Linked DNA regions of Homo sapiens: region 1 is linked to region 2. Evidence: fine-mapped expression QTL. A gene starts in region 2. The other region holds a variant in brackets. All regions are shown on one strand. Distances are from middle to middle.

Region 1 (4,389 bases), 33 kb after region 2:
TTGGGACAGGGCGAGACTCTGTCTCCAAAAAAAACCAATTATTTTTAATTTTTTAAAAATAGAGATGGGATCTCACTATGTGGCCCAGGCTGTTCTTCAACTCCTGGCCTCAAGTGATCCTCCCACCCTGGCCTCCCAAAGTGTTGGGGTTACAAGCGTGAGCTGCCACACCTGGCCTCCTATCTTTACTCCCTTTCTACTTGGAAACCTACACATGCTGTATTCTCTCCAATCAAACAAGAACAAGAACAGTAACACTTGCCTTGGTTCTACTGCCTTTTTGATGTGCCATCCTTCCATTCATTACCCAATTTCCTGAAGAATCATTTAAATGTGTTCTCTGGCCCTTGCTTGAGCACCTCTGGCACTGTGGACAGCTGGCTCTGATTGTTAGAGAAGATGGTCATTATTTTGAGCCTTTTAAATAGATCCCTTGTGGTTCTTGCCTACTGGTCTTAGTGTCACCTTGTGAGGTCACACAGAGCAAGTTTAATTCCCTGATGCAGACAACCTTTTCCTGTCCTGGCCTCCTCTCTCAGTCTGATCTTTCTGAGCTAGGAACTGCCAGTTTCTTCAACTCTTTTTCACAGGCTCTGCCTCTGAGTCCCCTTTGCCTTCCTGTTTCCAGTTTGACTCTCTTCTTAAAATGTCATGGCCCAATATTAAATGTGAATTATCCACATCTGCTCTGTCTCCCACAGTACAGCAGGATTCTCACCTCTTTGTTCTCCTCATTACACTTTTGCCCAGTACAATTGTGAAAGCCTCCACCCATTAACTGAAACCTCTAAGACAGCGGTTCAGAAAGTGTGGCTCATGGAGCTCCTACTTCAGAATGACCCAGAGAGCTTCATGTTATGGACTGAAAGTTTGTGTCCTCCCAAAAGAGGGTGGAACTGAATGTGTAGGTATTTTGATCACAGCCTCCAGAACTGTGAGAAATAAATGTCTGTTGATTGGGCCACCTAGTCTATGATATTTTGTGATAGCAGTCTGAGCTATCTAAGACACTTTAATAAATGGAGATTCTTGGTCCACACCTCAAACTTGAATCTGACAATCTGGGGTAGCACCTGGGAATCCACATTTTAAACATTTATGCCAGGTGACTTTTTCTTTGTTTTTTTTTTGAGATGGGATCTTGCTGTGTTGCCTAGGCTGGAGTACAGTAGTATGATCAGAGCTCACTGCAGCCTCAAACTCCTGGGCTCAAATGATCCTTCCACGTCAGCCTCCCCAGTAGCTGGGATTATCGGCATACACCACCATGCCTGGCTAATTTTTAAAAACATTATTTTGTAGGGACAGGGTCTTGCTATGTTGACCAGGCTCTGGTCTCGAACTCCTGGCCTCAAGCAATCCTCCCGCCTTGGCCTCCCAAAGTGCTGGGATTTCTGGTGTGAGCCACTGTGCTCAGCCAGGTGATTCTTAAATGTGCCCAAAAGTCTGAAAAGAAAAAAGCTTCAGGTCTTTTCTAATACTTCTTACCAAGCCTGGCTCCCTCCACCCGAGTTTGTGCAGATGGGTTTTCAGGTCCAAGGTCAAGACCTGCCATTTTCTTGTGTTACATTTCACCTTGCTAGATTTGGTGCATTGCCTTGGTCTATCAAAAATCTTTTGAATTCTTTATCTTGCAACATATGATGTCATGATAATCACACATGGACTACCAAAACCTCACTGTCCCAGCACCAGAAATCTCCTCCACATTGATACCAATCACTAACTAATTTGTACTTCATCTTTCATCTTCTTTTCCATGAGATAAATGAGCAAATTGTCTTTCTTTCTTTCTTTTTTTTTTTTTTGAGACAGAGTTTTGCTCTTGTTGCCTAGGCTGGAGTGCAATGGCACAATCTCTGCTCTCTGCTCACCACAATCTTCGCCTCCCAGGTTCAAGCAATTCTCTTGCCTCAGCCTCCTGAGTAGCTGGAATTACAGGCATGCGCCACCATGCCCGGCTAATTTTGTATTTTTAGTAGAGACGGGGTTTCTCCATGTTGGTCAGGCTGGTCTCGAACTCCTGAACTCAGGTGATCTGCCCATCTCGACCTCCCAAAGTGCTGGGATTACAGGCATGAGCCACTGTGCCCGGCCCAAATTGTCTTTAACCATATTATCAAATGCCTCACTAAAGCCCAGCTCTTCTTTGTATTCTCTATTTCCCTGTTCCACTGGTAGATGCCAATTCTGTCAAAAAAGAAAATAAAGTGTTCTCACAGGCCATTTACACATGCATTCTAGAATCTGTGGTCAGGCAATGGACTCTAGTGTGCAGAACTCACCCTTTTTTCC[A/G]GTGACGTTGTTCTGGATGTTTATGGCACTTATGTCATAGGACCCTTGACTTGTAATTATAAATGTTCTTGTCCACATCTTTTTTTTTTTTTTTTTTTGAGACGGAGTCTCACTCCATCACCCAAGCTGGAGTGCGGTGGCACGATCTTGGCTCACTGCAACCTCTGCCTCCCAGGTTCAAGGGATCCTCCTGCCTCAGCCTCCTGGGTAGCTGAGACTACAGGTGTGTACCACCACACCCAGCTAATTTTTATATTTTTACTAGAGACGGGGTTTCACCATGTTGGCCGGGCTGTTCTTGAATTCCTGACCTCAGGTGATCCACCCGCCTCAGTCTCTCAAAGTGCTGGGATTACAGGTGTGAGCCACCGCATCCAGCCCTCGTCTACATCTTGATTCAACTACGAGATAAGGAGCTCCTGAACTCTGAGCTTTTATCTTAGGTGCCTCAAAATATCTCATGGTAACTAGCACAAGATCCTACTTGGTAACCTTTCTTTGAATGAATGAATTTTTTTTTCTCTTTTTTGAGAGGGAGTCTCTCTATGTTGCCCAGCCTGGAGTGCAGTGGCGCGATCTTGGCTCACTGCAAGCTCCGCCTCCTGGGTTCACGCCATTCTTCTGCCTCAGCCTCCCGAATAGCTGGGACTACAGGCGCCCGCTACCACGCCCGGCTAATTTTTTTTGTATTTTTAGTAGAGATGGGGTTTCACCGTGTTAGCCAGGATGGTCTCGATCTCCTGACCTCAGGATCCGCCTGCCTTGGCCTCCCAGAGTGCTGGGATTACAGACGTGAGCCACCGTGCCCAGCCAAATGAATGAATTTTACATTTTATTCCCATTAACTTACTTTCTTTTTTTTTGTATAAGATGAAAGCAGATCCTGGAGTGAATACTGGAAGACTAAGCTCCCTAGGCACGAGGGAAGTGGTGTGCCTGGGCAGATCTCAGCAGTCCCAATTGTTTCTCTTAGTCACTGCTCATAAAAATCAGCTCCTTAGAATAAAAGCAGTCTTTGAAATGCAGTGTGATGAAATCACAGAAAGGATGACACAGTTTCTGAAACATCACAACATTACTGGAATCTGTAGTAATGGCCAAAGAGACACAGGAAACAGTATTTAAAACAAAACAAAACAAAACCTGGCCAGGCGCAGTGGCTCATGCCTGTAATCTTAGCACTTTGGGAGGCCGAGGTGGACGGATTACTTGAGGTCAGGAGTTCAAGACCAGCCTGGCCAACATGGTGAAACTCCATCTCTACTAAAAAAAAAAAAAAAAAAAAAAAATACAAAAATTAGCTGGGCTTGGTGGCGGGTGCCTGTAATCCCAGCTACTTGGGAGGCTAAGGCAGGAGGATCACTTGAACCCAGGAGGTAGAGGTTGCAGTGAGCCAAGACCATGCCATTGCACTCCAGCCTGGGCAACAAGAGCAAAACTCCGTCTCAAAAAAGCGAAACAAAAAAACCCCAACACCTTACCTTAGTAGAGCCATCTAAGTCAGCATAACATGCAGATAAAACCTGAGTTATGAGCTTACTGCTAATGAGACCTCTTGTGATGGCACAAAGTGTGTCGGTAGGATGTGACATGGCTGGACAGGGACATCTGGCTTTTCTCTCCATTATGGTTCCCTTCTGTATCACAACTGGTAACACATCTGAATAATTATCTGATATATAAAACACAAAGGGTGAAAAGCTGTAAATGAATGGTGGAAAGTCTTGTGGTTTTCATGGTCAAGTGACTTTCTTTGTAGTCATGCCTTTCCTATTTCTTTTTTTATTTTTTGAGACAGGGTCTCACTTTGTTGCCCAGGATAGAGTACAGTGGTGCAATCTTGGCTCACTGCAGCCTCGACCTCTCGGGCTCAAGCCATCCTCTCACCTCAGCCTTCTGAGTACCTGGGACTACAGGTGCGCACCATCACACCTGGTTAACTGTTGTGTTTTTTATAGAGATGCGTTTTTGCCATGTGGCCCAGGCTGGTCTCAAACTCCTGGGCTCAAGCGATCTGCCCGCCTCAGCCTCCCAAGTGCTGGGATTACAGGTGTGAGCCACCATGCCCGGCCTTTCCTATTTCTTTCCTATAGG
Region 2 (4,389 bases):
AAGGGAGAGAGAAAAAGTTTCTTTTGGCCATCATAGCTACACACTCTCTGAAAGGGTGCCTGCAGGGTCTCTGCAAAACAGAATGAACACAAATACAGGCGTGCAAACATCCAGGTATGTACCTCTCTGTGAAGACCCCATTCTTGAAACCCTTCAATTATTTGGAACCGTGGTCTCCTGACTTCCCTCACACCTCACTTTTGCCTTCATTGTTTTTCATGTTTGAGTAGCAAGAGGGATTCAGAATCTCAGGCTGCCAGTGGCTGTTCTGATAACAAGGAGCAGACTCATGTTTCTTGCTACGGCCTTTCTTGATCAGGTTACCTTGGAAGGTGTATGTTTTCCTACCCAATGCAGTCCCCACCACAGCACTCTCGTGTCCTCCTCCAGCCCAGCCTCCTGGAACTCGTGATTTTCAGGGTTTCCCTTGAAACCTATCCAGAAACCACAGCCATTAACTGAACGTGAAGATTTGACACCTCCTGAATTCAGGAATGAGGGAACTCGAGGGGCCAACTCTACAAACTCGCACCTGCTGCTTGACGGCAAGGAAACAGAGTTTCCCCAGCTAGGGTGAGCTTTAAATTATACACTATTTATTTAGTGACTTGTCTCCAAGGATCTCAAAGCATAGAGAGAAATAAGATGATGTGTAACTTTCTCACAATCTACCTTCAAGGCTTTGCCCTGGTGCATTCTGACAAGCAGGACCCAGTATGAAGGAGAGGCCTTCCTTCTGTGCCCAGGCAGAGCCATCTGTTCTCTCTGGGGTTTTCTGTCAGTGGCTTTAGGGAGTCTTCAAGGACTGTTAAATGACACAGAGGGTGGGGGGAGGGATGACCCTCCTGGATTCACCTGCTCACGGCTTTCACTTAAGCCAGTTTAACACAGGAGGTACCACTGTGCCACGCAATTCCCTCTTAGCACACACCATGCGTGAGCTGCAGTCTTTGCCCTCCAGGCCTTTTCCTATCATAACACAGGTGTGTCCAAGGCAGAAAAGAACATTTTCCAGAAGGTTCGTTTCCCTCCAAGCCTACAATGCTTCTTTTTGTTGTTATTGTTTTTCTGCTACTGACCTAAACATAGGCATTCCTCCTCCTAACAGGATAAAAATCTTGACTCTCTCCTTTGCATCAGCTCCCCACCCCGCCCCTGCCCAAGGAAATAAATGCTCTGACTTTTCCAAGAGTGCGAAAAAACTAAAATTAGAGGGTGGACAAGATGATCTCCAAAGGTGCCCTCCAGCTCCAAAACTCTGATTCTCCCTTTAATTACTCCACAAGCGCATTCTTCACATTGTTTCGAACTGACCAGCGACTTCTCCAGGGCTGAAAAGGGTGCATTTTTAGGCGGAGGCACCCAAACTTCTAAATGACACCAGTACCACAAGTATTCAGAAGGCAGGAACTAATCCAAAAGCAGACTCAGGAAAGGAGGAGGGAGGGGAGGACAGAGGGAAGGGAAGGAAGGAGGAAGGAAGAGCTTTACTGTGTGCCCAGCAGAATTTAGGCGCTCTCACCCTAGGTAGGTGGCAACTGGAGTCTGGGAGTTCAAGTGCATCCAGCCTGCCCTTCCCCCACACGCCCCAAGAGAATGGGAAGTTCAGCCAAGACTCGCAGCACCTGCCCGCGGCTCCAGGCCGGCTGCGCGGACCCGGAGGGAGGCTGCACTCACCTGGCACACCAAGCCTCCGCGCACCTCCGGAGGGAGGCGGCACTTGCAGGTCCGGGGGCCGCGCCGCCATGCGCAACAACGGGAAATTCCAGTGGCACCCGAGCCCCGAGCTCACCCACCCCAGGCGGCATGCTCCCCACCTCCCGCTGGCCCCAGGACTCGGAGGTGGCTCTGGTCAGGAGCAGGGGGCCCGGAGACAGGGGAGGGGAGCTCATGGTGGCGGCAGGGCTGGCGGTCGGCCCGTCCCCGGAGGGAGGTCCCCGGGACGCGGCGGGGATTCACCCACGGGGCGCGGCGCTGGCGTCCGGGTCCCCGGCCTGCCCGCCGCCGCCGCCTCCTCCTCTGCCGCCGCCCGCCCGGAATCGCTTTATGTAAATGAAGCCCAACTCGCAGTTTGCAGCGCGCACCGCCCGGGGAAGGGGGGCGGGCGGGGCGGGGGGCCTTCGGGGATCCACATTACACAGCAACAAAGCGGAAGGTTAATTTGAAACTCACAGCCCCGCTGCCGCTCGGCTCCCCGGGCAAAGCCTGACATCTACAGTCGTGCCGGGCGCAGGCCGGGTTGCTCGGCGGCGACCGCGCCCGCCCGCCCGCAGGGACCCGGGGACGCACAGGGACGCGCGGGACCCGGGCGCTCAGCTGCGCTCGCTCCGCTTGGGGCGCGGGCCTTGGGGCAGGCCGGGGGTCCCGCGCACCCGCCTGGGGCCAGGAACCCTCGCCGCTCGGCCTGCGCCGCCCCGGGAACCGGCCCCGGCGGGAACAAAGCCCAGGCCCTCCCGGAGGCGCTGACCCCTCGCTCATCAAAGGTCAGGGGCCGGCCTAGAATCGGGCGAGAAGAAAGGGACGCGCCCTCGGCCACTAAAAGGAGCCTGAGGCCTCCGAACCGGAGCCATCGCTCCCTGGGCCCCGTCCACGTCACAGCCAGGCCACTCAAGCATGGGGACAGGAGCCAATGTGGACAGGAATTTATTGGAAACACACACCCATCCTATTAACTGCTTTACAGAGCACTTCTGTTTTTCAGTTGCAGAAACTTATAAAAACATCCCCCTGCTCTCCGTTGAGAGTTTAAGGATAGTTTTTGAGGCCAGAGAAAGAGAAAAGGAGAGATCACTAGAAAGATAGGAAGAAAAGAAGTGGGAAGAAAAGGAGATGCAGTCTACCATGTAAGCCTCCAGGCTCCTTAGCCTCACCTTATAAAGCCACATCACCGCAGAGATAGCAAAGATCGTGCCCTTTCCCAGGGAGTTCCTACCGCCAGGGTAAGATTTAAAGCGGCCACCCCAGTTGGTCAAAGTGATTGCTGGGCGCCTTTCTATCTCCCCAAGTTCACCTTTTCCAGTTGGTCAAAGCGATTGCTGGGCGCCTTCTATCTCCCCAAGTCCACCTTTTTCCATTCTCATCTGAAAGCCAGCCCCAAAGAAATCTCACCGGAAGTCCTCTGTCCTCCCTGTCAGAATCCCACCCTCAGTCTGAATTTACTCCCGATTCTCACAGCACAGAAAGGCACCTGCTTTTACCCTTTCTGAAAACCACCCACCCAGGCTGGCCTTACAGCCTGGAGAGTCTTTTCCTCGGGCACAATAATGAACCATGCAAGTGTTAGAAATATAATCAGCTCATGAGGCGAAGAGCAGTATGTATGGAATTGTATTAGCATGAGGCACACACTGACTCGGGAGAAAAAGGGATGCTTAGCTGGTGAAAACCATCACATCCCCGTATAGAAGGCTTTTTGCACAATGTAAGTTGGGTTCAGATTAATGTAAGTATCTAACCTGTTGGGTACAGACAGCCCCTTTCTACATTTTAGTCCAGAATAGATTCTGGGGAAATTTATTTATTTATTTATTTATTTCAGCTAAGGCCCTGGGAGAAAAGACTGCCTCCAGGGAATCATGTCCGATTAGGGACAAAGGAGGGCACAAGCCCAATTCAGTCACACGTGAGAGCACGGGGGCCGGGTGGGGGGAGTTAAGAGCCAACAGGGAAGGTGGAGGATGAGTTTGCAAACCAGACTATGGTCACTGCAGAGCTGCTTCCAGACCACCTGACTTCAGGCCCAAGAACAGGTGGTGTTTTCAAAACACACTGTTATTTATATTGGCCATATAAGTTGAGAACACCTTAAAGAAAACAATTAATAATTTAATTGAAAAAGTGACTATGAATAAGACATGAAGATGACGTATGCTAGCAGGACCGCAAGCAACGTGGCCCACAACGCAGAGATGCCTCTGGCAATCTCTCCGGAAAAACGAAGATTCCTTACCTGGGATAGGTAAGGCCTGCTGGATAAATTAAAGACAACAAGAAAATGTTGATACTCTCAGAAAATCTAATTTTGCTGCTTTATCTTCATTTTTATTAACAGGGGACAACCTCGTAATCTGGTGACATCATGATCCTGGTAGGCCCACAGACAAATACCTTCAATAAAATAAAAGCTAGAAAGCCCAAAGAACAAGCTATTAAAGTAACCTGGGAGGATGCAGCACTGCCTGGGCAGAAGGCCCGGACGGGATCTGCCCTAATACTGCCACTGTCCCAAGAGGCAGACCCTGCAACCTGCCTCCTGCACTTGAGAGGCCTGACAAGTAGAACTGAGAGTGACCCTGAGTTCCTTTTCTTTATCTGGCACCAGCTACACACATGATGAGGCCTAGTCAAGCCTGCCTTTGTTCCAGGCAAAAATTTAACAGGTAATCCACA

The links. PIP is the estimated chance that this variant, and not a neighbour inherited with it, causes the effect.
Region 1: its variant is the best candidate, but not a certain one, in a credible set for the expression of ZFHX3 in whole blood (INTERVAL, PIP 0.89).

What each region holds. Positions count from the first base shown.
Region 1 is chr16:73,079,462-73,083,850 of GRCh38, forward strand. It overlaps a transcript of ZFHX3 not described here. Among named protein-coding and RNA genes, the nearest start is that of HCCAT5, 11 kb to the right of the region's middle. The variant A/G (reference allele first, on the strand shown) is at 2,296.
Region 2 is chr16:73,046,075-73,050,463 of GRCh38, forward strand. It overlaps ZFHX3 (zinc finger homeobox 3), which reads right to left and starts at 2,054. Exons shown (of 10, transcript NM_006885.4): 1 at 1,678-2,054. It overlaps LOC124903719 (a long non-coding RNA gene), which reads left to right and starts at 1,504. Exons shown (of 2, transcript XR_007065116.1): 1 at 1,504-1,726; 2 at 4,052-4,389. RefSeq lists enhancers at 1,348-1,883, 2,420-2,955 and a silencer at 1,645-2,494.